Homo sapiens: one gene and its partner. The protein of the gene in region 1 purifies or fractionates together with the protein of each later gene. This does not show direct contact. Each region holds a gene or a part of one and is shown in the gene's direction. Other genes may lie near its edges.

Region 1 (3,500 bases):
GTTTTAAATGTAAAACTCAATAGCCAGAGTCTTTTGTTTTAATATTTAAATACTAGAAGATACATTTCATATCATTCTTACATATTACAAACATTCACCCATTCTTACCCAGGAACAATCATTTTGTATTTATTGTCCTAAGAGGATTTTGTTTTTGTTAAGCTGATAAACACTTCTTCCCCATATCTTTGAAATTAAAAAAGAGTAAATATCTTATGCAAGCTTTCTATTCAGTGTTTTATAGTATCAGTGTAACTGATTATTGAATTCACCAGTTTTAAGCTGAATTGTCATTTTGTCTATTTAATTACTACATAAAATACCATAATTTGGGAAATTGGATGAGGAAGCTTATCTCTATCAAATATAAAAAGGAAAAATAAGACTTTTTTCCTCCTGGATTGACTGTTGCTTTAATGAGATAGTTTGTATTTTACTGAGAAAGAATGGAGAAAGTAAGCAAGTCAAATTAAAAGGAAGTCTATCTCAATGTCAGCTGTCAATCCAGGAGACTCCCAGAGCAATCTTTCAACTTTCAGGCAGATTTATGACTGCAGTTTAAAACTAGCAGTGCCTGAGTGGAAATTTATAATTATTCTAATCAAATTATTGCTGAGCTACAAATCATAATTAGCCAGCTTAATTGGAAGATAAATTAAATGTTTATTTTTATTCCACTTTTGTCAGATGCAGAAGTTGTAACCTGTCTTTAGTAATTATGTGAGAAAATGTTATTTTAAAATGTCAAATTTTGTTTTGTTTCTGACGCTTTAGGTATATAGAAGGTACACAGAATCAGAAAAGATTATAAAAGAAAGCAAGATTTTTGTTAGTGACGTCCTGTTTCCTCTGAAGAGTAATAGTTGGAATCAAAAGAGTCAACGCAATGAACTGTTATTTACTGCTGCGTTTTATGTTGGGAATTCCTCTCCTATGGCCTTGTCTTGGAGCAACAGAAAACTCTCAAACAAAGAAAGTCAAGCAGCCAGTGCGATCTCATTTGAGAGTGAAGCGTGGCTGGGTGTGGAACCAATTTTTTGTACCAGAGGAAATGAATACGACTAGTCATCACATCGGCCAGGTACTTATTTATTTAAAATGTTACAGTAAATAGCACAACAATGTAAATAAATATGTTGGAGAAGTTTGGAGATTTGATGAGTTCCACATTTTTACAGTGAAGCCATTGAAAAGCTTCAAACAGCAGCATCAATAATTGTTTCAGATTTGCAAGCACCTAAAACATCCACTAAAATCTTGAAGAGGGATAGCTCTGGTTTTTAAATTTCACTTCAGTATCCCGTATGAAAATGCAGCCCTCATTTTCAACATCTGGAAACTTTATTGCGTTATTTTTGGTAATGAATCTAAGCAGTCACAGTGAGACAAATATCATTTACCAACAGTATTTAGCCCGATTTTCTGTTACGCTAAGTAGCTGTTGATTTACCCCTCGTTCATTTTTAATGAAGCAGGTTAATACCATATTCTCCTACAGTTAAGTAGCTTCAGGAGCCTACACACTTAAATTGATTAGTAAAGTTAAAGTAAAAGGAATAATTATGTTCACTTTCTTAAAAGAATATATTTTAAGAACAATTCCTTAATGAGACAAAGCATCTCCTATTTATGTTTTTGGCTTGTATTTTATTATTTGGTTTTCTTTAAACAAAGGTGATTACAATATCATGTCCTTTTCCATAAGGCTTTTTCTCTAGATAAATGAACTGAAATAAGTTTAACCGCTAATTAACTGGCACTAAAATTTAATTGGGCCCAAAGGGTGAAGCACTCAAAATTTATTAACTCTCATTTTCTAGCCCTTTCAGGAGAGCTGCAGTGTTAGCATGGTATCTGGATTCCATAGAACTTCACCTGTGTTATCAGCCAAATGTATATGAGTACATTCAACCAAAGCCTTAGATTAGGATTTTAGGCAAGTATTTCCAAACGTGCAGGGAGGAGGGTGTATTGTGAACACACACACACACGCATACACACACACACACATTACAAGAAATATTTCTCAACCCCTTTTATTTTCGACTCAGACTACAGGTAAATAATACGCACAGTTGGCACTAAGAAGGTCCACAGTTAGGTGCCGACTCAGTAACTGAGTCTCTAGCTACCTTTACAGTGGACTGCACAGAACACCATATACTCTCCCATCACTGAATGGGGTGACAGGCTAAAATCAGCTATTGGCTTTTAGTAAATAAGGTGTTATAGGGAAGTGCATCAGTGTAATTGGAACACAGGCCACCTCTGGGGCTGTCACATTTTCTAGTTTGTTTGTTTCTACTCCCCACATGAATCTCTGTTTACCTCCTTTCTCACAGTGATTGGTTTTGCCTATTTTTTCATTTCAGAGACATATTTATGAAACTACTCTGAAAAATGTTTTTCTGCTACACAAACTCATCAGGCTTAAAAAACAAGTGAATCACTGATTTCAAAAAGAACAATAATGAATGTTTAGGTGCTTGTCAAAAGAGTTAGTAAATATACAATTTAGCTGCTGCGTTCAAGATAACTCTCTTTGATCCATTTGTTTGAAAAATGATTAAGATTGGGAAGTACAATTAAGTGAAAATTTGAAGTGATATTTGTTTAGCAAATTGATAGTAGCAGCCTAATTAGGAAAATATTTTTTGAATAAAAATATAGAAAATTGTATAATACTACAGGCCATTTGATTGAAATGTGTTTAACATATGCATTTTATGACATTAAAAGGCTGGTGTTCAAGTAAGCTTTTTCGTTTTTGTTTCTGTCTTCCCTTAAATCTGGGTCTTAAAAATGTCAAGCTTACTTGTCTTTGAAAATTACACTGCACATATACTTGCAATATATTTACTTATTACTAAACTTAATTTATCTTCATTATAATATCAAATAAATTATCAAATCATATTGAAATGATATAATTTAAAAATATGAACCATACATTGCTCACTTGATATATTGATTTGATTGTATAATTTGTTCCTCAATTTCTTACATCATCGCATGAAGAATTTCTTTTAGGAATAATTAAGAACTATCAAAAGAAGTATTACCAGAAAGACAATCTGGATGTTATTTTTCATTACATAGCATTGATATTCGGCATGTTATTAAAATGCAAAATTAGTTACTAGTACCTTCAGATTTTCTCCACAACCGCAAAGAAAGTGTATTAATTTATCCAGTATAAGAAATTATAACTTAAGCCATCAGAAAAATCATGAATTTGTTTACAACTGATTTCATGATTATCTTTGTAAATTTTCAGAGGAACTCTTACTGTGAATAAGAGCATTTTCATAAATGGTGAATCAAGAAAATGTGGATTCACAATGATTAGGGAACCATGACATTCTTCTCTTACATACAAATAATTCTGATATGAAAAGCTATGTGATCATTTTAACTATATCAGAATTAGACGGGTTTTTTTACAGATAAATTAAAAATTCTAAATAATACCTCAACAGTATGAATGATGAACTAATTTA
Region 2 (3,500 bases), on another chromosome or scaffold:
GTCTGTCTCCTGCTAGATAGTCCGTGAGAGTGCAACTATGTCTGTCATATTCATTTCTTTGTACCTATTACAGTGCCTGGCACAAAGCAAGTGCTCAAATGTTTATTGAATGGACAGTTGCTTATTTCACCTTTGCAGATGTATGTACGGAGGGACAGAAAGTTAGTGTTTGACTCTCTCAGGGTAGGTCAAGGGATGATGGCATCCTAATGAAGTGACATTTGAGGCCTTGAAGGATTAGTAGGAATTTTCCAGAGCAAAGCATTCCAAAAAGAAGAAACACCATTTGCAAAAAAGGACAAAAACACAAAATATGGTTCAGGAGATATCTGAATCCAGTATAGCTGGAGTATACTAGCTATCTGAAGCTATGCTAGCCAGATGAAGGTAGAAGAAGAAAACAGAATGAGTAAGTCTTTGAGAGTAATAAGACACTGGCATTAAGAATTAATCTCTTCCCTCAGAAGTGGATGGGTTTAAAATGCCACTGTATAAAAGGATTGACTGGTTAAGTCTCTAATAATAGTATGAAACAGTTAAGTTTTTGGAAAAATATCTGTTGAATGTTTACTATGCTCCAAGCACTATTTTAGGCACAAGGGATACTGAGATGATATAATCATAGTCCCCAGCTTCAAGGACTTTATAATCCAAATGAGAGAAAGATTAATAGTGAAGTAGAGTTTTAAAGGAGTAATGAAAGGATGGGTGTAGTGGTGTGTGCCTATAATCCCAGTTCCTTGGGAGGCTGAGTGGGGAACAGAGCTTGAGTCCAGGAGTTTGAGACCAGCCTGGACAGTATAGTGAGAGTCTGTCCCAAAAAACTCAGGAGCACTGAAGAATGGTGGGGGCACAAGGAGCCTTTATGCGAATGAAGAGGTTTCGGCAGTGCCTGCGTTACCCAGTGAAGCTTGAACTGGCTCTTGAAAGATACAGAAGTAAGGCAGAGGACATTGTAGGTAAAGGGAGCAGCAAAAGCAAAGTCAAATGAACAAGTTAACTTATTTAAGAACAAGAACAACCAAGGTCCTAAGATTTCTTAAAATCCTCAAAATTTCTAGAATTTTTACATAACAAGTTGACAATTTTGATATAGAAATTTACCCGTATTCTTTAATTGCATAATGATTGGCTAATCATGTATTCATTCAGTCAGTAAATATCAAGCACCAGCTCTTTGCCATGCATTGTAGTCTTATGAACTGATGCTTCCTAGGTTTGTGCAGTGCACAAGCTGCACAGCCCTACCTAATGAACAAAACAGATAAAACTCTGTCCTCTTGGAGCTTATATTAGAATGGGGAAACAAATAATACAGAAAGAAAATATACTGAATGTTGGGTGGTAGTAATGGAATGGAGAAAATTAAGGTAAGGAGGATAAGGGAGTGCTGGGTAGGGGAGTGGTAGTACTGGTATTTTTAACAGAATAGTCAGAGAAGGTGTTACTGATAAGGTAACTTTTGAGCCAAGACTTGAAATTGACTTGGGATTATGGCGGTAGAGGGAACCAGCTGAAGCTTACAGGGTGCTTGGCCTCTTTGAATAACAGAAAAAAAGTAATCAAGTGGCTGGAACCATGTGGGCATAGGGAGAATATCCACATTGTGTATGGCCTTGTAGGCCATTGTGAGGGCTTTGGTATTTAATCTGAGTGAAATGATCAGGTATTGGAAGGTATTTAACCTCAGTGAAATGATCAGGTATTGGAAGCAGAGAAATGATGTGATCTAACTTATATTTTTAGAGGATCACTGGCTCCTGTGTTGAAAATACACTCTACGGAAGCATGGCAGAAACAGGGAGACCAGTTTGGGAGTTGCAGTAATCCAGGGAGAGGTGGAAGTGGTCTGGACCAGAAAGGCCACAGTGTGGAGGGGGTGAGAAGTAGAAGGATTCTTGATATAATCATAAATTTAAAATTTGAGTGGCCATAATTTACTCTTCCCCTCCTCAGAAAGTTTGTTAGTTTAGAATTATGGTAAAGCCCCTTTTTTACATTCTTTTAGGTCAAAGGAAAAATATGGCATGTAGGGAGAAATATTAATTGAAGAAAATAATATGACATATTGCAACCACTGCATTGAATTATCGTCATTTGTCACTATGCATTTTTGTCCTCCCATGTAACTATCAAAGCATATCAGAAATATAAATTGTTCTACATGGAAGCTATTCAATATCTTGTAAAATGAATTTAACATGAAACTCCTAGAATATAGGAAGCATAAATGGGGTTTGGAGAGAGGAAGTGTAGTACAATATGTCCGATAGTGTATAATACAAAAATACGACCTAAGGACTTCATTCTGTTTTACTTTTGTTTTTTATTTTCTTAAGTATTTTCCATTCCTTTGCATAAGTGTCTTTGCATGGTATTTTAAGAATAAAAATTGTGAAAAGAAAGAATTATTCAATAGTATCTCAGATTTTTTTTTAATGTATTTAGGTGGTCCAGTGCCAAGAGACATTTATCAGAGAATTAAAAAACTTGAGGATAAAATCCTTGAATTGGAAGGCATCTCTCCTGAATATTTTCAGTCTGTAGTGAGTATAAGTGTCTTTTAAAAATAAATGAAAATGTTATTGTATTCTGGATTCTTTGTGGTTTAACAGTCACTCATTGATCTATAAGCAAAACACTATTTTAATAATTCAAAGATGAATGAACACAGTCCTGTATAGGGGATATATCTAATTCCTTAAAATCTCTGGTTCTGAATATTTTTAAAATTTAGAATTTTTAAAAAGGGATACTTCTATTATATATTACCCACATTCTCAAACTTAGGCCATTTTCATGGCATAGTAAGTCAGCCTGGGTGGTGGTTGGGCCTGTTACTCTGAACTTGCTACCTTGTAAAACAGAGGCTTCCTCTGTAACCTTGCTCTTTCAGTGATCCCTCTGCCTCTTTAATCTCTCTTCCCCAACAGGCTCCTTCTCTCAGCTCATATGCAGTTAATACTAAACAAACACACACCTCAAGCTGCCACTCTTATTCTTTACCTTAACCACCAGACTTTCTATGTTTTTGTAATTCCTTAACTCTAGCATTCATTCATTCTTACCCCGTTTTCCAAGAACCTTAAGAAACAGTGTTGTGCTGGTAAGTTAGTATCTTTGGCACATCAACATTTTTCAGAAAAATGATCCTGAGCTCATTGTGTTTTCCTCAGTCTTCTGAGGTGATTATGTATAATACCTGCCTTCTCTAAGTTTTGTTTTTTTTTTAAAGCAGTACCATATTAGAACTAAAATAATATCAAAGTGAGATTATACCAAAACTCCTATTTCTGAAAAATTATGTGAGATAGCCCATTTTAGCATGGATCATATAAGTTAGTGGTGAAAATATATTTAAAATTTATTTTAGGTATGACAGCAATCTTCCAAAGTTATAGATTGAGTATAAGAGTGAGTTACAGAAAAGAAGTATTTCCAGAAGAAGAAGGCAGGTCACGTAACAAAAGGGAGCAGCAAGTCCTAAATGACAAAATTTC

What was found.
Region 2: the proteins of CDH19 (region 1) and MBIP purify together in Homo sapiens (affinity purification with mass spectrometry; 2 studies listed by BioGRID and IntAct, with this or other methods). This does not show direct contact.

Annotation. Positions count from the first base shown.
Region 1 is NC_000018.10:66,569,591-66,573,090, reverse strand, and holds part of CDH19 (cadherin-19 isoform 1 preproprotein), read left to right. Parts: intron 1-774; 5' UTR 775-886; coding exon 887-1,081; intron 1,082-3,500. UniProt on the Homo sapiens protein: Cadherins are calcium-dependent cell adhesion proteins. They preferentially interact with themselves in a homophilic manner in connecting cells; cadherins may thus contribute to the sorting of heterogeneous cell types.
Region 2 is NC_000014.9:36,307,138-36,310,637, reverse strand, and holds part of MBIP (MAP3K12-binding inhibitory protein 1), read left to right. Parts: intron 1-2,448; coding exon 2,449-2,546; intron 2,547-3,500. UniProt on the Homo sapiens protein: Inhibits the MAP3K12 activity to induce the activation of the JNK/SAPK pathway. Component of the ATAC complex, a complex with histone acetyltransferase activity on histones H3 and H4.